Linked DNA regions of Homo sapiens: all the other regions are linked to region 1. The links come from fine-mapping of genetic effects on gene expression. A gene starts in region 1. Each other region holds a variant in brackets. All regions are shown on one strand. Distances are between the middles of the regions.

Region 1 (8,184 bases):
TGCCTGTAATCGGGTGGTTGGTAGCAGGGGAGGTGTGGGCAAGAGATGAAGCCAGAGGATTTCAGATTTGGGTGGGAGCGTAGGCCAGAAGAGGGAACGTTGGATGTAGTCACACTGCTGTTGGTGTTACTTAGACCTTCATTTTTCCACCAGACTGTAGTGTTCAAAATTCTTTTTAGTAAGAGAACCCTTTTTTTCTGAACTTTTTACAACCATCTCCAAATTATGAAACATAAGACTTTTTTTTTTAGTAAAAATGTATTTTTTTACAAGCACAGTGTCTTGCACCATGGAGGGGAGAGGAGGTGTTTTGTCCTTGGAGCTGCTGGCCTGAGAGAACCTTGTCATCGTGGGAGCTGGGCCATTCCTACACAGTGGTCTGGCAATGACCCGGTGGTGGTGGAGGCCTGTGAGTGGGCACTGGTAATGGGAGCAGCTGTAAAACCCTGGAGGGCAGCCCCAGGAGAGTGACCTTACCAGGAAAGTTCTGGGAAACAAACCACAGGGAGGCTTTACAGGAATTTTTGGTTGTGCCCACAGGCAAGGCACATGAGGAAAAGAAATGTAATTATAGTTTGTAAGTCGATGAAAAGAGGCAATGAGTGACATGAAATAGCTGCTCTAAGTTTCTTCTTCCTGTCGGACAGGAAGAAATGGGGTTTTATGCATTTCATTCAGCAGATATTTATTGAGTGCCAGCTGTGAGCTGGGCCCTGCACAAAGTGCAGGGAATATTGGTGGTTAGCAAAATAGTCAAGGTTCGTATCCTAAGGAACTCTTCTGAGGGAAGACTGAGATTAAGCAGATAACTGTATAAATGCATAATTACACAGCATGGTGAGTGCTCTGAAGGATAAGTGTGGGGAGCCTCATTTAGATTGGAGGATTGTGAAAGTCAAGAGACAGGAGAGTCAAGGTGAGGCAAGGTGAGTAAGAGCTATCCAGGCAAAGACTGCTTGGTAGGGGAGTGTCCCAGCAACGGGAAACAACCTGGAAAAAATATGACACCTCAGGGGAACTAAAAGCAGTTGTATGTGGCTGATGCACAGACAGGGAAGGGCAGGAAGTGTGCTGAAAGAAGGCAGGAGGAGAATCATGCTGGGCCTTGTAGGTCCTGGTAAGAAGTTAGATTTTATCTTAAGTGTAGTGGGAAGTCAATGAAGTGTGTTAAGCAGGAAATGACCTGATCTGGTGTTAAAAAAAAAAAAAAAAAAGGTGATTCAGACAGCTCTAATGACTTTGTGAGGGGAGAGTGGAAGCTGGGGCAATTAGGAGGTTTTTGCAATAATTAAGGTGAGAGATGGGTAGCATCAGAGGTGGAGAAAAGTGGACAGATAAAAGATATATTTTGGAAGTAGAATTGTTTGCAGTTGGGAAATGGGTTGGATGTGGGCAGAAATAAGAAGGGAGAGTTGAGGATGTCTCCCAGGTTTCTGGCACATGTATGCTTGCAGGCCTCTCAGTAGACAGCAGAGAGCTTATATAAGGTTGTCAAATCCTTATCCTTCAGAAGGGTCAGGTAGGATTGGTCTAAATCCAGCCTTGCAGAGGCAGTGGTGGGATTCAGCTGTCCCTGACTCTGCCCAGTTCAAGGAGTGTGTACACAGTAGCATTACCCAAGCAGGGATTCCAGTTCTCTCAGTAATGGGGCCCTTCCTTTGTCCCTTCCCCCAGGACAAGGCCCTAAGGAACCTCCATAACTCCAGCATGCCACTAGGGGGAGCATGGCCCGCATTCTGGGTCTGGTTTGGAGGGCTTCTTAAGTTTGGATTACTTCAGGAACTGACTTGTATCAGTTCTAGTACTCAGTCCTGACCCCTGGCCCCTCATACTGCTTAAAAGAATGCCTGGCATATGGTAGGTGCTCAACAAGTGTTAACTGATGTTACTACTGTATTATTAATATTATCTTATTATAGAAAGGGGTGGGATCACCCCTTCTTTCTCAGGATGGAGACTGGGCAAGTGGAATGTGCATTTTGAGGATCAGGAGGAGAGCAGAGGGATGCCTTTTGGACAAGGAAGAGGCGGAAATTTAGTGATTTGATGATACTGCATTTGCCCTTCTGTCTTGTCTTTCTTTGTCTTTCTTTGTAGACTTGGGATTCTTCAGCTGGGGCTTGGGTGGGGTTGGGGATTTATAGTGGGTGATTAGGTTCACTCCCTTTCAAGCTCTGATTGCTTCACTAAAGCAGTAGTGCCCCCCATTTAGGATTTGTGCCATTCTGTCATTTCCTGTTGGATTTTATAACACTTTCCTACCTTAACTTCTGGTATATATTTACCTTTTAAACTCAAGTCAATCAGAATCTTGTTTTGAGAATGTTGTGATATGCTGGAAATTAATGAAAAAAACCCACTAGATTCTGCATAGGATGTTGCATTAAAGATTCTATCAGGCTGGGTGTGGTAGTACACACCTATAATCCCAGCTACTCAGGAGTCTGAGGTGGGAGGATTGCTTGAGCTCAGGAGTTCAAGACCAGCCTGGGCAACATAATAAGACCTCGTGTCAATAAATAAATAAATAAATAACATCAGGACCTTTTTTTTGGGAGCACTGTTTTTGGGAGCAGCATTGGAAAATATCCTCCTTAAGCCTCAGTGTCCTCATCCTGGGGAGGGTATTAACTGTCCCAGTGTTTTTTGTTTGTTTTTGGTGAGGAGTTGTCAAGAGGAGTAAAGTTCTTAGTTCAGTTCCTGACTTGAGAGTGCTTTCACGGACAGCATCTCTTCCGATGCTCAGTCCCAGCCCTGTCAGTAGGCTCTGTAGGTGGAAAGGGGGAAGTCATGGGACTTGCCCAATGGCACATGGCCCGTTAGTGGTGGAGTCAGGCACTGCCAAGGTCTTCTGACCCCTGGTGCTGTTGCAACCACTGTGCTTAATGTACTCAAGAGACTTGAAAGGCTTGGGGATTGTTTCTAGATTTTATTTCCTGGTTCCATGACCTGGGGCAAGTAATTTTACTTCTGTTGTAGAATTAAAAAAAAAAAATCTGTTAAATTAGTATAATAATGCCAATCCTAACTTTCAGACCTGTCATGTTGAACAGACGAGCCAAGATTTTGAGAGTCGTTTAGAAAAGTGCAAGGTCACATATAGCTGTAGGGTAGGGCTTTTTCTCCGAGCTGTGCATCAGGACGTTTTACATCTTAGAGATGCTGTCTTAAGGTCTTTAGGCTGAAAGGATGGTAGTCAGCCTATCTCGCCACAACTTACAAGGATTCTCCACCTTCCCTTGGGAGCCCAGCGTTATCTCATAACCAGTTATCAAAAAGTTGACAGTTTTTGAAATCAGGTGGCAATATACTTTAGTTGAAAGTGTGCTGGACTAGGGCGAACTTGGCTGATCTCTTAGTTCTTTGACTGCCTAACTGTATAAGTGCAGATCAAATGTTTAATCTCTCTGAGTCTCAGTTTTTCCATCTATAAAATGGTCATAAGGCCAGTATGCTGGCTCACGCCTGTAATCCCAGCACTTTGAGAGGCTGAGGCAGGAGGATTGCGTGAAGCCAGGAGTTCAAAACCAGCCTGGGCAACATAGTGAGACCCTGTCTCTATAAAAATAAAAATTAAAAAAGTAGCCAGGCGTGGTGGTGCATGCCTGTAGTCCCAGCTACTTCAGAGGCTGAGGCAGGAGGGTTGTTTGAGCCCAGGAGTTTGATGATGTAGTGAGCTATGATTGCACCAATGCATTCCAGCTTGGGCAATGGAGCAAGATCCTGTCTCTAAAAGAAATTTAAGAAGAATAATAAATAAACTTGAAAAAATGGTCATAAAAATATCTGTGCAGTGTATTTCAAAAGGTTATGAGGATCAAACAAAATGATACATGTAAAAAGAATGTTACAAAGCAGAAATGTATGCTGGGTAGGGGGGAGAGGAAGGGACAGGATGGGGATGGGGATGGGACTAAACTTAGGGGGTCTGCCGTGTCCCAGGGACTGTGCTCATTTTCTGACAGGAGCAATATTATTACCGACTGTGACAGCAGCTCCCACTAAGCCTGCACCTTAGCTGCAGATCCTTAGCAGGGCAGAGAGACAAGGCTGTATTTGTATCAGGTTTGTCGTCTGGGTTGTGACTCTCGACTTGCCCAGGATTCTTCCTGGTCCTGACCGAGTTGTCTTTGCTCTCCATTTCAGGAAGATGAGAGACTGCTTAGGCGCCACCACTAGTACCATGAGTCCCTGCACTGGTTAAAGCCATCGCCACAACCTGGACAGGCAGCAAGGTAAGCAGAGAGGCCAGTCCAGGCGAGCTCCTGGGATGTGAGTGCATTTCCGCCCCAACTGCTGCCCGGAAAAATCCCAAGTGCACAAACAAGTCAAGGCAGCGCATCAGGGTCCCTCCTACCCGAGCTCCAGGACCCAGAGGAAGCTGGGTCCCCTTCAAGCGCTTCAGCTAGCTCCCTCCCCCCTGGCAGGGATTCTTCCAAGTTATAAAAAATGAGACACTGGAGGGGAAGAAAACAAGTCCACTCACTGTCTTCTCCCTTCTCCCCTCTGAGCTGTTCAAGCAAGTTCCCAGGAGCAGTTCAGAGCCCCTGTTGGACTGGAAGGGAGGTAGGAGGAGTGGAATGCATGCAAAAACCGAGCTGATCAAAAGACAGTGCTGTTTCATGGAAGCCTCCCAGAACTGAGAGAGAGAGAGAGAGAGAGAGAGAGAGAGAGACAGTGAGAAAGAAAGAAAAAGAGAGCGCCCTTGTGCACGCGCTAGGCCAAGAGCGCGCCGCTGTGCGCGCGCCCGCCTAGCGAGGACAGGGTCTCCATGACAACCGGCCTGGCCGGCTAGCAGTGCTCTGCTCACTTGGCTGCGAGGAGCGCCACGAAAGGTCAGAGGAAGGAGCTGTGGGAAGCTCGCAGCAGGTATCGGAGCTTAAGCCAGTGGATTTGGGGGCCCTGGGCTCCCTAGCCGGCTGCGGTGTGAGAATGGAGTGGGCAGGAAAGCAGCGGGACTTTCAGGTAAGGGCAGCTCCGGGCTGGGATCATTTGGCCTCCTTTCCTGGCCCTTCTCTCCGGCTGTTTTCTGGGAGTCAGGCGAGTGTCTGTAGTCTCTGCTCGGGGTTTGGGGCTCAGGAATGATGTCATGCTCCAACAGTTGGATTCTATTAGCTTAAGGAGGAGGGAAACAGCCAATTTTCTTGACTTTGCAAATCTAGCTGATCTCACTCTTGCTGAATCTGAGGTGTTTAGACTTCACTCTAAAAAGCATCATTTTACTTTTATTTAGCACAAAGGCACAGGATATTTTTACAGGAAGAATCTTTTATATGGAAAAATCTGAGTTAACATCACTCCCGTGGTGTTTGTAGTTCTTACAGGGAAACTCCAGTGCCTTTTGAGCCGCTTGTTCGTCCTAGTGAACACTGTCTGTTTTGTCTCTTGGTGCTGCTATGTCTGACCTGTAATGGAAAAAAAAAAAAAAAAAAGGCTAATTAAGCTCAGCCAGGAGCCTGTGGTGAGTTCCAAGTCCCTCTAGAGCATTTATTAGGACAGAGGGACTGTCACAGGGATGCCTGAGCTGGGGTTTTGCACTCTCTCTCTTCCAGGCAGCTTGGTAAGAATCAAGCTGTCCTCCCACATCAAAAGGTCGATCACAGACTTTCCTAAGAGGTGGAGGAGGGGGCTGGCTTGGGGTTGGGGGGCCTGCAAACAGGTTTCTCATCCAGATGTCCCAGAGTGAGCTCTCAGCAGCAGCTGCTAAGAGCTGGGGAACATGAGGCACTGTAGTTGTGCCGGGTGGATTCCTTTGGTTACATTTTGACCAAATCTCAGGGCACGCAGTGTCCACGCTGTGCACTCCTACACTGATTGTCCTAAGTTTTGGTAAAACTTGTTCTGACCTAGAGGAGTGGTACATGGTGAGCTGTGTGGCCTTGGAAAGGAGACCCTCCCAGAAAGGCAGTTTTATAGGTGATAGGGTAGTGGGGTTGTCAGTAATATTATGAGGAGGATGAATGCAGCAAACACTTCCTGCAACGGAGACCCATCAGGGGTTGTGCTTCCACTTGAGCCATGTTATGTCTTAAATTCACTTCTTGGCCTCAGGGAACTTTGCAAATGCCTTTGGTTTCTCTGTGGGATGAGGGAACAGCTGCTGTCCTGGTTCTTCAGTTTTTCTTCTTGAACTTTCTGAACAGAATGTCTTTTGTATTCTGGCAAACAATGAGGGGGCATTCTGATTAACTTCGGATCAGCTTGCCAATGCAAGCACTGGCCATGTCCCCAGTTCCGGCTCCCTAAAATGAGTACATGTATACATCGTGGTTGTGGCCTGAGGGTCCACAAGGGTGAACTCCATGGCCCTGGACCTCAGACGGTCCACTTCTGAAGTTATTCCTCTTGCTACATACACTCCAGGGATCCTTTGCTTAGTTGAAACCTACATTTTGCTGGAGGGATGTGGCATAACACTGAGCCAGTGGCCCCTTCAGTTGGCAGTGTAAATCCAGAACCTCAGCCTTCTTTTCTACTTGTGTGTGTAGTTGGAGCTCTTCAATTTTACCATCCCCACATCTGTGAAGAGGGCTAGCAGAGACCCAGTTTCAGGAGCTGCTGCTCCTTCTGTTGGTATAGCAGAAAGAATAATGGATTTGGGTTGCTAGACTTGAGTCGACGGCTAGATTCTGTTCCCATAGGGCGGCCACGGGCAAGTATCTTAACTAATAGGAGCTTCAGATTCTTACCTGTGAGATGGAGGTAATAAGAACAACTTCACAGGACTGTTGGGAGGAGCCAGTGGGATAACTTCCATGAAAGTAGTTTGAAACAAGTCACGTCCTATCTAACGAACCGTGTTGTGAATTGAAGCTTGAGGAATGACCCAACTCTCTCTGGAAAGTCACTTTGCCTCTCTGTTCTGGTTCTCTCATTTTATAAAGTGCCTTCTTCCTTTCTGCATTTATAAGTAAACATGAGAAAAATCTGAAAAGACTTCTTCAGGATGTTTAAGGAAACAAATGTTGCTTTCCTTGGGTTGGGTCGTTTCATAAGAGTGATGTTTGCCATAAAACTGGAGCCTCATAGACGATCCTGCAGGGAGGAAGCTTTCCTTGGTCACCTGACTCATGTGTTTATATATAGTATAGAGGAGAGGTATTCCAAAAGACCCGTCGCTTTTCCTGTGTCCCACAGCTGCCTGTAGAGTTGTGGCACCATAAACTTTAGCAGCTGGAAAAGAGGCCAGGCCTGGTTCCCTCATCCTGCTGGGTCCTGCTGGGCACACTCTGCAGTGGGCAAAGGGGTCTTTCTCCTTCATTCTGGGTTTAGAAGGCAGGGTTCTAACTGGGAGAAAGTGTTATTGCTCCGAAAGGCTTCTTGGGGGCTGGGCAGGTCTTTCAGGAACTCATAAGGCCACAGCTTATGGGGAAAGAAAAAGAAACAAGGAAGTGGGAATTCCAAGGGCAGAGATTCTTGATATGCCATGGGACTGTGCCAAGGAATGGAAGAGCAGGGGAAGGGAGACTCCAGGCAAGGAGAGTCCCAGGTCTGTCCTCATTGAGTCGAAAGGGCGTATGGCATACTAGAGCGCGTCACCCACAGCCCCAGCTTTACTGTAGGATGGGGAAGACCTGCCAGCCATATCCCGGAGTGGTGTCTGGGAAGAAGCCCTTGAGCAGACCCATAGTAGGCAGATTAAAAAAATGAAACAAAACAAGCAGCTCCCCTTCTAGTTGAGTCATGTCACAACAGCCTCTAAGGCCTGAAGGAGAAGCTGCCCACAGCTTAGATTGGGGCTGCAGCTGTTCCCCGACTCCCATCAGTCCGGCTTCCCAGAGCTGAGTCACAAATTGGATCTGTCTATGTTCCTTAAGGATTAAAAAGTAACATTCCTGTTCTCACTCCCTCTTTCCTCCTTCTACTCCGCTTCCTGTACCTTCTCCCCTTGGGCTCTCTCTCTCTCAAATTAGATATCAGTCACCCCGGGAAGATGAAACTTTGAAATACACTGGAGAACAGGCCAAGGACACCCTTGGTTCTGCTGGTTCAGCCTCTTTCCCTGGAATGAAGGGCGGGGTGTACAGATTCAGGAGGGCAATCCAAGTATCATGGCCCCACTGGTAGCCTAGACCTAAGAGAGGCTGTGCCCCACTCCCCACCGCATCTGATTCTAAGAACTGCATTACGGGAGGTCCACCTGGCACCTCAGGGAGATGGGAGGCTCTGAGGCCTGGGCCTTCT
Region 2 (8,184 bases), 21 kb before region 1:
TTAGTGATGAGGATGAGGACCCATGCTCACTGTTGCTGTGCCCAACCCTGGGAGGCTCTCAGGCTGCTGAAACTTGCTAGAGAAAGTTGTGGAGCTAAGTAGAATATTTCTGGGCAGAAGAGCTCCATAATTGATTCTGTATACTTTCAAGTAGGACTTCTCTGTTATTTTGCAATTTTTTTTTTTTTTTTGTATTTTTAGTAGAGACGGGGTTTCACTGTGTTAGCCAGGCTGGTCTCCAAATTCTGACCTCCTGATCCACCAACCTCGGCCTCCCAAAGTGCTGGGATTACAGGCATGAGTCACCATCCCCGGCCCTATATTCACCATGTTTTTATGTATTCCATAAGCCCTAACTCCACTGTGACCTACATCCCCGATGAGGATGCCTCCTACTTTCCTGAGACTGTTAGAGCTAGGTGACATAGAACTCTGGGGTAGTTTATTTTCTTTAGATAGATCGGTACTCAGCCAGCCAGCTCAGGAGAACAGGCAGTGAGCATTCCCCGTAGGCTCTGTAGACGTGTTCCTTGCGAATGCCAACGATGTCTGGTTGAAGTAATAGTTTGATCTGGGGCTGGATAAGAGTTGTGAGCCTGTGTCTGGCATTTGGTATTTTCCCCCATTCTTTGATCTTAAGTTGTCCTAGGCAGGTGATCCAACTGGTATCTGTCACATAATATCCAGTGCGTCCTCCCTGGCACTCCGATTCTCAGTAGTCATGAACCAGCTGGCTTCTATATCTCTCACCAATCACAGGTAATTTAGGTCTCCCTCAGGTAAGTGTTCTTCAGATCCTACTCACATCCTCTTTAATCCCCATCTTTCCTTCTCTTTCTGTCCTTATGATTTTGCTTAATTGCCTCCCAAAAAACCCTCCTTATCCCCTTTCCTTTTTGCCTGTGGGATAAAAGCTAGCTTTGATCATAGCTGGTAAAGTGTGAAACCAAGAATACTTCTGAAAGGACAGTCAGACATTTGGGAATGAAAGTAGACGGTTTGAAGTATCAGTGCCATCACTATTGTTCTTGAGAATGCTTTTAAAGATTCCCCCCAGATATCCATCTTTTAATTAACCTGCCCTTCTTCCAGGACCACAATTTGAAACACGTAAAAATTATTATTTATTTGTTTGTTTGGAGACAGAGTCTTGCTGTGTTGCCCAGGCTAGAGTGTGGTGGCGCGATCTCAGCTCACTGCAGCCTCCACCCTCTGGGCTCAAGCAATTCTCCCACTTCAGCCTCCCGAGTAGCTGGGACCACAGGCACACACCGCCATGCCCGGCTAATTTTTGTATTTTTGTAGAGATAGGTTTTGCCATGTTGCCCAGGCTGGTCTTGAATTCCTGGGCTCAATTGATCCGCCCACCTTGGCCTCCCAAAGTGATGAGATTACAGGTGTGAGCCACCGTGCCTGGCCAAAAATGATATAATTTTATTCCTCTTACATTTTGTTTTATTGCTAGTATTTACAGAGGTATTGTTTTGTGTCTTTATTATGTATAAACAGTATTTCAGCCATGTTGTTCATTAATGAGCTTGTCTGCGCATCTGGCTACCATGTCTGGTGTTGTTTCTGTGGAAAACTGTCTTCAACCTATAAAGGGCGACTGCCTGAAAAAGGAGCTTTTAGTGAAAACACAGTCTGTTCACCCTCTGGCCCCTGCTGGTGAAGTTGCTCTAGAAGAGACTGACTCTGTTCCCATTGCATGAAGAGGAAGAAAAGTGCTTCCAAGGGCTTCCGGGAGCAGGTCAGGAAAGCTAGGTCTGTTTTCTTCAGTCTCGGCTAGAGGAGCTGGAATGTGCCATGCCTAACTTTGCCTAAGCTCTTTTCTTTTTCGCACTGTGTGTCACACTGGGAAAAACTTGAGCTTAAAACCCAATGAAATTCTCCCACTTTGAAAATCATGATGTAATTATGACAGGATCGCATTCTTTAAACTTACTGTTTAGTGGGGTTAGTGGAGTTATCTCCTCTGATTTTTGACAAGGAAATAATACATTCTTGTTGCAATGCTGTATCAGGTCTTAGGATGGAAAGCGTCTAATTTAAAGCTACAGACCTTTCCTGTAGGACGCATATGCTGCTAATCTATGAAAACTGAAGATGTCCCAGTGCACTGTGTGTAAACTGCAGCATCTCCTTGTGGAATGAACAGTTCAGGAAAATAGAATGACTTTCCAAACTGTACTAGGTTCCAGGTGACTGAAAATTTCCTGTGAGGGTGGGAAAGCTTATCCAGATGTTCTTGCTTGGGGATCAGCATGTGTCATCCCGTTCCAAAGAAGTACAGTCACAGCTGATTTTATCTTTGTCCTTCTTTCTGTGGTGCCCAGGGATGCTCTTTTTGAGTTCATCTTTGGTCTTGTCTCTCTGAAAAAAGCAGCATGCATTTTGATCTAGGTTTAAACAGTTAAAATCTGTGGCCACAGGGTAAGGTGAAACTAATGGCTCTAAGTAGCCAACTTTTTACCTTTGCTTCACTGGCACCAGGCTGTGAGTAACTGAACTAACCAGCTGCAGACCCTTATTATGCAATTTTGAGGTAAGGATGGGTGAAATCCTAGGGGCTGGGAGACAGACATGTTTGGCTACCAGAGAGATGACATCAGTTCATTTACTGGTGCTGTGGAGGAAGGGGAGATTCCAGGTGCTTAGCCTTCTTCCTGCATGTGGGGGTGTCCAGAGCCACCCTTAATCCTATTCGCAGCCAAGGTCTTTGCTTGGGAAAAACCATATTTAACTCTGTGCCTCCTGTTATCCCCATAGGGACATGAAGTTGGAAGGGTTCTTGTATCTTTGGCTTCCCGAACAAAGCTTTGAAGAACAGACGTGTGTCTATATGTGTCTCTGTGTGTATTTTGTATTAATGCTAGCAACTGATTAAGGTTTTCAGAGTCCAGGTCGTATATGAGAAGGGGAAGTGTCATCTGGATTTTATGGAATCTGTATTAGGAATTGCCCTTTCCTTGCAAAGGAAACAGTTAATGATGTAATCCACTTTTAAATTAAAATTATTTTATTATTTTATTTTGATATCCTTCACGTGGACACTTAGTATATAACAGGAAGGCATCTTTAATAACTCTTTCTGTGTTCTGCTCCTTCTCCTGTGCTTATCCTAGAACAGAGCCTTACAGGGTCATAATTTGGAGGAAGCACAGGCTTCTGGGAGCTGTGGTACTAACAGTAGGACTAAAAAAAGCCTTATGACCTCTGAAGCATGACTGAGAGAATCAAGCTGGGAGGCATTAGA[G/T]CCCATCTGCTCACCAGCTTTGCTGGCCTGTCAGATGTTGGGCTTCCCCTCCGGTTTGCCCTCCTCCCTCAAGATGTGTTAGAAAATGAAGCCTGCTTCCTGGAAAGCAGGTGACGCCAAAGCCTATGCTAAGAGGATCCGACCTCACATCTGCGTGCCTGCCTTGGGCTCCCCTGTGACTGGATTGCTTCGGGTCTCCCTAAGACCCTTGCTGACATTCAAGTGCAGCCGCTGCTTACTGGAAGCCGTCTGGGGCCAGCCCAGGCTTGTTCTGTCAGGGCCTCTTCCCACCACTGTGTCCTCGCCTCCTGTGGGCTTTCACATACAAGGGCCTCACCATCCCTGAATTGCCAGAATCCTTGTTGTGAGAACCCAGTGCCTCCCAGTCAGGGCCCAGGAAGCTGTGGGTAAGCTCTTGGTTTCCTTCTCGGCCAGACACTTCTGGGAAACTATCTGCATTCCTTTCTGCCCAACTCTGCCTCTGGGCTCTGGGGCTGTGTGGGGTGTGGCTGCCTCATGCCTCTGTGAGGAGGAATGCTAGTTCCACTGAGACCAGCCATGGAAGGTAACCAGGAGTTTGAAGGTGGAATTCCCTTTTCTTGCAGTCCTAGAGCCAGGAGCTAGCTTTTCATGGATTGTGATGAGGTGTTGGTTCTTTTTTTTTTTTTTTTTTTTGGAGACAGAGTCTCGCTCTGTTGCCAGGCTGGAGTGCAATGGCACAATCTCGGCCCACAGCAACCTCCGCCTCCCCGGTCCAAGCAATTCTCCTGCCTCAACCTCCCGAGTAGCTGGGACTACAAGTGTGCACCACCATGCCCAGCTAATTTTTGTATTTTGTACTAGAGACGGGGTTTCACCGTGTTGGCCAGGATGGTCTTGATCTCTTGACCTTGTGATCCGCCCACCTCGGCTTCCAATAGTGCTGGGATTACAGGCGTGAGCCACTGTGCCTGGCCGAGGTGTTGGTTCTTTTAAAAATTTTCCAACTTGCTTTCCTGTCTCGCTGTCACTCTGGAAGGCGGGGGTGAGGGGTAGGAGGAGAGACAGTCGGCTCAGTCGGCTGTGATCCATCTTTGGCACTGGAGATGGGTGTGGCAGATACCTTTTGTGAGGAAGGAGCTTAGAGGCAGATGAGAGAATCTGCCTCTTGGTCTTGGTATAACTGGACGTCTCCCCAGTCTGGCTCTGTTGACACTCTGAATGGTTTGTGAAGGCATCCTCTGGCCCCTGAAGGCATTACCATCCTTACCAGGTTTAAAATCTTTCAGAGTGCACCCAGCATCATCAGCTCCTGCAAGCAGAAAGGGCCCAAGGGAGCATGAACACACACTGGGTAGAAGTTAAGCCTGGTTTTTTAAAATTTAAGTTTAAATTTTTAATTATTTAGGGAGTGAATCCTACAGAATTTAATTTTTCCATCTTTTTTTTATGGAGACAGGGTCTTGCTGTGTTGCTCGGGCTGCTCTTGAACTCCTGGGCTCAAACAGTCCTCTTGCCTCAGCCTCCCAACGTGCTGGGATTACGGGAGCAAGCCACCCCACTGTGTGCAGCCCAGAAGTTGAGCCTGAGAGGTAGGCTTATTGCCCTGTGTCTACCCAAGGGTGTGTGTGTGTGTCTGGAAGTGGAGATTAGGAGTGAATGCATCTTATAAACAGGAGAAGATCTGGAGAGACGATGGTGGGGGCTGGCTGTGGGGAGCACAAAAGCTGGGACTTTTGCAGAGGTGTATTTGCTCCCGAGTGGCCAGAAGCCAGGAGTAGTGGGGAAGGTGGGTTTAGGCATGCTAGGTTATGCTTGCATTGCTGAGTACCTTGGGTGTGATGGCCAGGAATGCTTTCCTCTGGGAATTGGGCCGATCTCCTGACAATCCTCCCCATTTTACACCCATTACATACTTATGTGATTCTTACCTATCAGGGAGGTCTTGGGGTCATGTGTTGTGGGGCAGAGGCTCTGAGTCTAAGAATGGGCTGGTCAGCCAGGGGCTCCACCTCCCAGTTTGTTGGCTTCCTCAAGGATGCCATCCTTCTTTGCAGCTGCCAATCTTCACTGGTGTCTGTGCCCTGGCAGGGTATAGAGCCCTTCTCATGGGTGCTCTGCCTCTTTGGGGGCTTGAGAACAGATGGGGCTTAATTTGAAGCAGATTTCCCTCCAGGGCCCAGGTATGAAATATATATTAGAAGATGACTACTGGTCTTGGCTTTTCTTTCTTATGTGTCTCTTTCTTCCTTTTATCTTCCCACTACTGTCAGGCACTGTGAGCAGCTGTTGCTATCACACGGGCGGATCAGAACATGAAGAATGGAGCTAAATAGAGCTGTCTGCATGCTGTTCTGATGGGCTCAGGCTCAGCCTCAGAGAATAGGTGGATTGGAGCCTGTGATGGGGGCTCTTTCCCCCACCAGAGTGGGTGAAAGCAGGGAGGAACAGGCGGGAAGATACTTTAGGAGTTGGGAGGGTATTAATTCCACCTCTTCTCTCCTTCCTCTGTACCCCAACATTCCCTGTGAGTTGTCAAGGGCTGGAGAGATAACAAAGATCTTTCTTTCCACCATCAGGCAGTAAGGCAATGCAGCCCTCGCTGAATTTTCAGCTCCACTGACATTGTGATGCAAATATTAAATAAAGCTTATTTTCTGACCTGAGGGAATTTATAAGCTATTGGGAGAGACAGTGTTTGTTAAACAAGTAGAGAATATCCAAGATCTTAACTGTGTTGGTTTACGAACCATGGATACATTTATAGTTCAGAACAAGAAAGTTGTATCTTAAAACCACAGAAAACTTTCCTTGGAGGAGGCAGGATTTTTCTGGTCTTTAAAGTTGGGTCAACTTTATAAGGAAAGGAGAGATGTTCACTCCAGTGTCACGGCGATGATCTACCTTGGAGGGGTAGGTGTGGCAGAGCAGAGCCAGGGACCTGAGCTCTGGAAGTCCTGCCATTACATAGGTGATGTGAAGTGATGCAGTGAAGGTGGAGTTTTGTGGAAATCTCTCCTGTAGATCGATGAAAATAGGATAATTTTGGAGAGGCCAGAGAAAGGCAGTGAGGAGGCCTGCTAAAGGACCTGGCAGGTCAGCAACAGGAGAGAGGAAGGGGGCGAGTCCTAGAGAATATTCCAGAGTAGATGAGGCAGGACTGACATGAAGGATGAACTTGAGGGGCAAGACGGAAGACACCAACGTTTCTGACCTGTGAGAGCTAACCAATACTGACACGTTCTGTTTGTGAAGTACTTGGACTTTTCAAAGCACTTTTTCATTCAGCAGAGCATTGTCTGGGCTCTTAGAGTTCATCTAGTCTGGCTCTGTTTTATAGAAGGGGAGATTGGGGACGAAAGGGGAAGCGACTGTTCCCAGCACACACAGCTATTTAGTGGTGGGGCGGGACCCGTGATATAGGCCTCTCCCTCCTAAGACAATTTTAAGACAACAGCAGCATGGAAGAGAGTGTGGGCTTCGCAGGAAGTCCGTCTGGCTGGATAACATTAGGTGATAAACCAATCTCTGAGAGCTGAGAGAAACTTACTCAGAAGCATTCAGACCATATCAATGGTTCAGCTCCTCAGAATTGTTTTTGAGAACCACAGAGAAGGAAGATGGACTCCTTGGGTCCTTCTAGTTCTCAGATTCATAGGAGTGCACAAAAATAATGTATATGAATAGTACTGAATGGGGCTCCCCGGAGACTGGCGGGTCTCCAGTGTGGTGCCTTTCTAAGGGAATTTTCAAGATAACTTGACTCCACATGATTTTTGCCTTGTGCTGACCACGGAAGCTGACTGCAAAGACACCACTGCTGAATTGCGCTGTGGCCAGTCATCACCACAGCCAGGGGCTCAGCATTGCAGTGACGGCTCTGATGTGTCACCCACTCCTCTCCCACCTCCTCTTACAACATATGCTGCACATGCACATGCACACACATACCACACACACAAACACCACACACACCACACATACTACACACCACACACACACCACACATATGCACACACACCACATGCACAAAAGCACACCACATACCCACACCACACACACAAACACACCATACACACCACACCACACACACCACACACAAACACACCATACACACACACGCACAACACACTCCACACATACTACACACACACCACACACATGCACACCACACACACACCCACACACACACCCCACACACACACACTTTCTCCTCCCTTCCCTGCCTCCCTCCTTCCTTTCATCTTACTTTTTGTCCTCCACAGTTTCTTGTCTCATCCCTGTCTTCCACCTCTGCTCCCCGCTCTTGTCTGGTCTAATTAACTTCCTCTGTTGGAGCAGCTTCCCCTCTTGGGTAAACTCAGACATGACCGCAGCAAAGCAGCGTGGAATCTTCTGTTTGGTCAGTGTTCCCTGAAATGGTGGTGGCACTCAGCCATCCGGGTCAGAAGCTGGAGTCCTTCTGGAGCTTTGCTCACCTCTGCAGCTGGTCACCTCCGAGTCCTTGTTTCCTATTAAAAGAGTGCTCGGTCCGCCCTGCTTGTCCCCATTCTCACCACCCCACATGGCAGGAGAGGAAGCAGAGAGGGATCATGGTGGAAGAAAGGAACGCAGAGATGAGGGTCCCCTTTGGTGTCCTTGAAAGCAGTGACCCCTCACAGAGTGGGTTCTTGTGGTCTGCGTCCTGACCCCCAGCTTCCCCGCAGATACAGCTGCATTGGAGCCCCTGAAGACAAACCAGAGAAGTGCTGCATCCTGGGGGGCAGGAGGCTTTGCTTTGCCCAGGGCTGGGCTCCTGAATGAATTTTGGTGCAGCCTTAACGGCCGAGTTGTGCTGTTGAAGGTGCACTGCTCTGTGTCCAGGCACTTCTGGAAGAGGAAGTCAAGGTCATGAGGCTGAATTAGGCTTTGTGTGCTCCTTCTAGGTTCTCAGCGTCTGTCTGGTCCTT
Region 3 (8,184 bases), 35 kb before region 1:
CTTTCTGTGCCTGGCTTGTTTCATTTAACATAGTGTCCTCAGGTTCATCCATGTTGTAGGAAGTGACAAGATTTCCTTCTTTTTTTATAGCTGAATAGTATTCCATTGTGTGTATATAAACCACATTTTCTTTTTTTATTTATCTGTTGATAGACACTCAGGTTGACTCCATATCTTGGCTATTATGAATAATGCTGCAATGAACATGGAAGTGCAGATAGCTCTTTGACATACTGATTTCATATCCTTTGGATATATGCTCAGTAGTGAGATTGCTGGATCATATGATAGTTCTATTTTTAATTTGTTGAGAAATCTCCATGCTGTTTTCCAGAATGGCTGTACCACTTTATATTCCCGTCAACCTCCACATCCTCTCCAACACTTATTATCTTTTGTCGTTTTGGTGGTAGCCATTCTAATAGGTGTGAGGTGTTATCTCGGTGTAGTTTTAATTTGCATTTCCCTGATGATTAGTGATGTTGAACATTTTTTCATATACCTGTTGGCCATTTGTATATCTTCTTCTGAAAAACGTCTGTTCAGGTCCTTTGCCCATTTTTAAATAAGTTGTTTTCTTACTATTGTGTTGATTCCTTATATATTTTGGGTATTAACCCCTTATCAGATCAAGCAGTTTTATATTTTATTTAATGCATTTTACCAACTTTTAAAATATTAAGAACAACTCATATATACTACATATGTTTTTCACAGTTTGTCTTTTAACTTTGTTTTCCACATACAAAAATTTTTAGTAATTTAATGTGAAATTTATCAGTTTTTGTGTGTGTGTGTGTGACTGGGTATCCCTCTGTCCTCCAAGCCAGAGTGAGGTGGCACGATCACAGCTCACTGCAGCCTTGACCTCCTTGGCTCAAGTGATCCTCCCACCTCAGCCTCCTGAGTAGCTGGGATTATGGGCATGTACCACCACACCTGGCTAATTTTTGTATTTTTTCTAGAGACGGGGTTTCACCTTGTTGCCCAGGCTGGTCTTGAACTCCTGGGCTCAAGTGATCCACCTGCCTTGGCCTCCCAAAGTGTTGGAATTACAGGCATGAACCACAGCACCCAGCCTTATTGGTCTTTTCTTTTCTTTTTTTTTTTGAGATGGAGACTCCCTCTGTCACCCAGGCTGGAGTACAGTGGGGCGATCTCAGCTCACTGCAACCTCTGCCTCTTGGATTCAAGCAATTCTCCTGCCTCAGCCGCCTGAGTAGCTGGGATTACAGGTGCCTGCCACCACACCTGGCTAATTTTTGTATCTTTAGTAGTGATGGAGTTTCACCATGTGGCCAGACTGGTTTCAAACTCCTGACCTCAAGTGATCTGCCCACCTTGGCCTCCCAAAGTGCTGGGATTACAGATATGAGCCACCATGCCTGGCCTTATCAGTCTCTTCAGTCTTTCTGTCTGTTTTTTTTTTTTTTTTTTTTTTTGAGACAGTCTAGCTCTGTCGCCCAGGCTGGAATGCAATGGTGTGATCTCGGCTCATGGCAACCTCCACCTCCCAGGTTCAGGTGATTCTCATGCCTCAGCCTCCTGAGTAGCTGGGATTACAGCCATCTGCCACCACACCTGGCAAATTTTTGTGTTTTTAGTAGAGACGGGGTTTCACCACGTTGGTCAGGCTGGTGTTGAACTCCTTACCTCAGGCTATCCACCCACCTTGGCCTCCCAAAGTGCTGGGATTACAGGTGTGAGCCACCGCGCCCGGCCTGTAGTATTCTCTTCACCTTTGTATCCCTAGTGCTTAGCAGTGACTGTCTTATTTTAAGTGTTCAGTGAATATTTGCAGAATGGTGCAACCCTTGGGGGTCCATGGGTAGAATTTGAAGGGTCTGCAACTTGGATAGGAAAAAAAAAATTACATCATTTTCATCCACCCCGATTGAAATTTAGTATTTCTTTTTTATTATGAATATAGGCAATAAAACAGCAGTAATGGCAGTACCTGTGATTTAGCCACCCATAGAAATCATGGATATTTCCCTGGATAAACCCTGGGTTAAGAATCTGCTTTACTGTTTTTTTTTTCTTGAGGCCATTTTATTTTTGTGTCAAATACCTAAGCAATACCTGGTACTCAGTAGATACCCAATAAATATTAATTTAAAAAACTTCTTATTTCAAAATATGCACAAAAGTCAGGAGAACTGATTCAGTATCTTGGCTATTATGAATAATGATAGCCATTGTTCCCATCTGTATAATGAACTCCATATATTCTTAATCTGCTTCAAATATTATTAACATTTTGCCAATTTTATCTTTCTCCTCCATTCCTGGACATTATGTTATTTACCCAATAATATTTCGGGAAGCATATTTGATAAGAACTTTAAAAATCTATAACCACTCTCTCACATTTAACCAAACTAACAATAATTCCTTAATATCATCTGTTATTCAGGTCATATTTAAATGTCCTCAGTTGTCTCAATGTTGTCTGGTATTTAAATGCTGGGCATGGTGGCACGTGCCTGCAGTCCTATTTTATTAATAATGTGTTTTTGACAATTGCTCTTTCCCTATTTAACATTTTATTATTATTTTTAATGGGAAATTATTGATTTGGGTTCTTTGGTCTTATTTGTAAAACTTAAAACATTTAAGTCTCATTTACAGTTGTTCTTGGACATAATTTAAAGTGAAGTGTGTGATGGGTAAATTTCTTCAGGTATGATCAAAGCTCTAAGAGATATTTCTTTTTCACTTGCTCAAAGAGTCTACTCACCTTGTTACACTGGAGGTAAAAATACTTTCTCTGAGAGTTTTATATGCATCTCTGGACTTTAATTGTATCCTTTGCAAAATTGGAAGAAATTTGGATTTGGGTCTTCTCAGCCTGCTGAGTTTTTTCTTTTTCTTATGCTTAAAAATATGAGAATGTCATAGTGGTAGTCTCTGGTTGATGATTTTGTACATCTTTTGTACTCAGAGCAAATCCTTCTGTTGTTTTTAGATAGCATTTTTTTCTATTAAACTTTATAGATTTGAGGCCATTTGTTCAAAGACTTTGATCATTTGCGGGATAGTTCTCTGAGCTGCATTCCTTCTTGTGCTTGTCATCTTGTGCATGCTTTGAATCTTTTATTGAAAAATATATTTTTGTATTTTATATCTTTTTCTGATTAGTTTTTTCTGTAGCATCACTTCTGTTTTTATTGCATTCATCAGTTCATTTAGTATGGACCTTACGTTTCTGTTTCTTTTGCAGCCAGCACTTGCGTAGTCTGTTTCATTGCCTTGAGAATCAATATCAGCCATTCTGTAAATTTGATGACAAATATTGAGAGCTTGCTGTGAGGAAGGCATTCCATTACAGGGATTAGCTTTTCTTTTCTTTTCTATCGTTAAGCTTTGTTTTCTTTGACTGCTTATACCCTTTTCCTATATATTCATTCTTCTCTGTTTACTGATCTTTCTTTCATAGTTTCAAACTATTTTATTTGTATTGTATTTACTGAGATTTGTGAGAAATTCTTTTAAATATACTATTGAGATCCCACTTTATGTTCGTTATAAAAGGTAAAGGAATTGAGGTATTTTGAATTTTGTAATGGCGAGTGTAATTAATGATCACCTAATTATAATCCCCCCATTTTAGGAAGTGACTTTGTATAAGGGAAACGAAATTCCAAATTCCCATTTCATTCTTGTTAAGATTAGCTTGAAGGGAGAGCCTCCCATGATGGGAGAATGCTCTCCACTAGAACGTGGTTTGTACCATGTGGGCGTGTCTCTGGAGAGCTGGCTCATTGGTGCTACAGCCTCAGGTAGAGCAGCAGCTGAATGACTGACTCTGGAGAAGTTTCACTGAGTGGTTAGCAAGTGTGAAGCCCTAAGCCAAAGACTATGAAAGACCCAAGAATTCAGAATCCACATGTATATAATGAACCTTTAATTTTGTGAAAGAGATAGACATTTGGATGAGTGGCAGGAGACAGTGTGT[GTC/C]CATTGGAACTGTAAGCAAGTAGGTGTCCCGCACAGTAAAGCATTGAGGGGTCACCCTGTGGGACAGGAACATGTCTAAGTCACAAGCCTTATCTTCAGAGAGGCATCAAACACCTACAGCAAAGAGCTAAGGATTAATATCAAAATACAAATGGATCATGGAGCGGTTTAGAAATATTGCAGGCCGCCTCTGGTATAAACAGAGAATGATGAGGGTTTAGAGGTAGAAGAACTGACTATAAGCAGAAGTGTTTGAGGAGGCTGCATGGAGAACAAGGGGCATCATCTTGGCCCTTGGCAGGTTGGCAGGATTTGACTTGGTGAAGAGAACGAGAAAGGGGACTTTAACTGGGAGGACTACTCTGGGGCACAGAGGAGGGAAGCTGTTTTATGAAACCAGGTTCATTTGTTCCCATCTGTAGGTTCTGCCCTGTCCGCAAGCAGCCGCGTCTTGGCTCACTCCTCTTCTCCCCTCCTCCCCATTGTGATGACCATGAGCCTTCTCTTGGAGTGTCTGCCCAGTGGGCCCTTCAGCCTGGGCGCTGCTTTGGTTCGGATGATACTGTCCTCCACTTGTCTTCTTCCAAGGATAGATAGCGCCCTGACCTCTAGGGCCAGCAGCCTGTTGGGGGATCTTCCTTCCAATGTCACCAGCCTTACCAGCTTCTTGAGTATTTATTCCTTCATACCACACTCAGCCTTCTTCTGGCTCCTTGCTACTTGTTCTCTTAGCATAGACACTGTCCCCTCTCCCTTTCCCCAGACATAGGCTTCCAGGTTGCAATTCCATGAGTGTTCATAACAAGCCTCAGCAGTACACTTTAGGTCTTACTGTCCTTATGTCCTCTGGCACGTCCCTGTCTGTGTTGCTCTGTGGACCATGGTTTCCCATCTAGAAACCATTACTTGCAGTGGGGAATGATGCACATGAGGACCTTCGAAGGGCTTGTAGGAGCTGAGGCTGTGGGAATAAAGTGTGGGCCCTGATTCTGAAGGGACTTGATTCAGTCCTGAAGAGAAACCGTGTATTTTTGGTTTCTAGACACTCTGTAATTTATTTAATCAGACCTTTATTGAGCACATTTAGGCTGTCTTCAGTCTCTTTCTGTTAAAATATAACAGTAATTATCCACGAATAAACATAATTTAATGTTAATTTTGATAATGCCACTGTTTTGGTGGGAGAGGCAGATAAGCTAGTAGTCTTCAGACAGGGTATATTTTCTAGATCCTTGACTTTCTATGTCCCCTTTCCAAAGGCTGATCTGTCTGAGAATTCAGTTGCACTCAAGGTGTTTCCTTTCTCAATCACTCTTCTCCCACTTTACAAAAGGAAGACATAGTCATTATTAATCTGGAGTCTTGCTGTTTGTGTGCCTGATGTGTGAAAGCCTCCAGATTAACAAGCAAAGGAACAATTAGGACTATTATTAGGAAAGTGAATGACTGTGAGTAGCAAATCCTTTTCTAAGTCAGATGGTTTCCAATTCTTGCTTTCAACAAAATTGAAGGCATTGTCAGTTGGTAGATAATTAAAAATAATTTTTGATTATAGGTCATGACATGATTTTGACTTGTGATTCTAAAGATACTGATATTGCTATAGCAAAATTTATTTTACTTCTCCCATTCAAGTACTAACGGGGCCTGACCCTGCTTAGCTTTTGAGATCAGACGAGATGGCACATTCAGGGTAGTATGGCTGTAGACTGTCACTTCTGTTTAGTTATTTATGTGAACAAGGTTTCTTGGTGCTTACCACTATAAAAATGAAAAATTAATGCATTTTGAATAAAATTTTACTTTTTATGTTTAATAATAGTACCAATTTCTAAACCAATTATGTTTTGATCATTTGCATATTCAAACAATAAAGATAATGAAAACCCAATCCAGAAGAAGAATTTTTTTTTTAACATTTACAAGTTATAGCCTGGATGTGGTGGCTCACACCTGTAATCTGAACACTTTGGAAAGCCGAGGCAGGAGGATCACTTGAGGCCAGTAATTCGAAACCAGCCTGGGCAACAAAGCAAGACTCTGTTCCTACAAAAATAAAAAATAGAAAGAATTAGCTGAGCAATGTGGTGGGCATCTGTAGTTCTAGCTGCTTGGGAGGCTGAAGCAGGAGGATTGCTTGAGCTCAGGAGTTTGAGGCTGCAGTGAGCTATGATTATGCCACTGCACTCCAGCTTGGGTGATACAGCAAGACCCTGTCTCTAAAAAAAAATAAAATAAATAGAATAAAAAATTGAGGTTATAATCATAGCAGAATTTAAAAATTTATGCATTTATATGTATATATGTATAATACTAATATATATATTGCAGAGAAGTATAGGTTGATCAGTAAAAGATTTTGAAGCATAAATATTAGGATAAAATTCTGAAAACGAAATAAAAGGAAGTAAGAGTTAACAAAAAGGCATAGTATAAAATGTATGTTCTTTTAAATAGATGATCCACTATGGCATTTAGAGTCCATTGGATCATTTAGATTCATTTAAGAGAGTAATGTTGTATTTAATTTAAAAATGTAAATATTTATTTATTTTTAATAAAACATTTTTGTCGAGACAGAGTTCTGCTCTGTCACCCAGGCTGGAATACAGTGGTGCAATCATGGCTCACTGCAGCCTCGATCTCCCGGGCTCAAGCCATCCTCCCACCTAGCCTCCCAAGTAGCTGGGACTGTAGGCATGCACCACCACACTTGGCTAACTTTTCGATTTTTTTGTGGAGCTGAGGTTTCACTATGTTGCCTAGGCTGGTCTTGAACTCCTGAGCTCAAGCCATTCTCCCACCTCAGCCTCCTCAAGTGCTGGGATTACAGGCATGCACCACTGTGCCAGGCCTGTAAATATTTATAAAATGCCAATATTTAGAATATGGCAGAAAGTACGTCTTTACTACTGGTTGTGATGCAAAAATTTAAATATTAAATGTAAGGAGGGTAATATAACATTCTTTTAGGGCACATAAGATAAACAGACATTTACAATGGAGTATGATACAGATGTTTGACCAGAGGAAAGCAAAGAATGTTGAGGAGAAGATGCAAGGGAAGCCCATGGCCAGAGAAAGCAACCAAAGGAGGTGCCGTGGGAGCGGCATCTTGAGGGACTGTTGGAGTTGGCTTAGCAAACAGAGGAGGGAAGCCATTCTGGGAAGAGGGAGTGGTGTGTGCAAAGGGTCTGGAGGTAGAGAATATCAGGATCAACCTTGGGGGAAAGCACAGGGGTGGCATGAGCAGGATGGTGATTTACGGCAGCCAGACAGCGTATTATTTGTGACAGGATTTGTGTATTCCGTATGAGAGGAGGGCTTGGAAAGGAGAGGCGGTGGTGGGGCTGGAGATCTGTGGAGGTAGCTGTTGCCAAGGGCCAGGCATGAGCAAGTGAGGCCAAGAATGACCCCTGAAGGGGTGCTTCCTTCCCAGTGACTGTTTTCCATCTTAGTAATCTTCTGGACATTTTTACAAATGCAGAGATTCTTATTTACATTCTGCTAGAGGAAGAAATTGAGGCCCACTGAGAGTCTGTTCCTCTTGCAGGTTTTGTACTTAGTAGCAATGGGCTGATTGGGCTTAGTGCTGCAGCCTAAGGTTCCACATTGGCCACATGCTCAATTAGGGCCTTTAGCTTGTTATTAAGACGAGTGACTCCGGCCGGGCACGGTGGCTCGCGCCTGTAATCCCTGCACTTTGGGAGGCCGAGGTGGGCGAATCACCTGAGGTCAGGAGTTCGAGACCAACATGGTGAAACCCCGTCTCTACAAAAAATACAAAAATTAGCCAGGCGTGGTGGCACTTGCCTGTAATCCCAGCCCCTCAGGAGGCTGAGGCAGGAGAATTGCTTGAACCCGGGAGGCGGATGTTGCAGTGAGCCGAGATCGCGCCACTGCACTCCAGCCTGGGTGACAGAGTGAGACTGCATTTCAAAAAAAAAAGAGAGAAAAGAAGAGCAACTCTAATTTTGGAGCCAAAATTTGAGATCCTTAGGCCAGTACAGGATTTTTGTCCTGATTTTTGAATTTGCTTACATGAGAAGCCTTTACAGAGTCCTAAACATTAAATCAAACTGAATGTATGCATTTACGAAATCACCCTTACTGTAAAGAATTTAACTGTATAAACTCTTTGGTCTCAGGAAAGGTAGCACGTGTGACACTTTTCTGGTACAGGGAATTACAGGGAATTCTTTGTCTTTCATGATGTCTCCATCA

Which allele goes with the higher level. Positions count from the first base shown, and alleles are read on the strand shown. Sizes are in standard deviations (SD) of each study's normalised expression. Not every link is listed here.
As copies of T replace G in region 2, the expression in lymphoblastoid cells of the gene that starts at base 4,808 in region 1 goes down (moderate effect, 0.66 SD a copy in GEUVADIS).

The links. PIP is the estimated chance that this variant, and not a neighbour inherited with it, causes the effect. A credible set is the group of variants that fine-mapping cannot tell apart.
Region 2: its variant is the best candidate, but not a certain one, in a credible set for the expression of DENND2B in lymphoblastoid cells (GEUVADIS, PIP 0.76).
Region 3: its variant is the best candidate, but not a certain one, in a credible set for the expression of DENND2B in whole blood (TOPMed, PIP 0.54).

Annotation. Positions count from the first base shown.
Region 1 is chr11:8,807,298-8,815,481 of GRCh38, reverse strand. It overlaps DENND2B (DENN domain containing 2B), which reads left to right and starts at 4,808. Exons shown (of 20, transcript NM_213618.2): 1 at 4,808-4,965. DENND2B-AS1 (DENND2B antisense RNA 1) reads right to left here. Exons shown (of 5, transcript NR_120590.1): 5 at 5,206-5,405.
Region 2 is chr11:8,828,199-8,836,382 of GRCh38, reverse strand. It overlaps a transcript of DENND2B not described here. Among named protein-coding and RNA genes, the nearest start is that of DENND2B, 22 kb to the right of the region's middle. RefSeq lists enhancers at 2,941-3,741, 3,473-3,792, 3,742-4,543, 7,324-7,823. The variant G/T (reference allele first, on the strand shown) is at 3,257.
Region 3 is chr11:8,842,749-8,850,932 of GRCh38, reverse strand. It overlaps a transcript of DENND2B not described here and the pseudogene RNA5SP330. Among named protein-coding and RNA genes, the nearest start is that of DENND2B, 36 kb to the right of the region's middle. The variant GTC/C (reference allele first, on the strand shown) is at 3,959.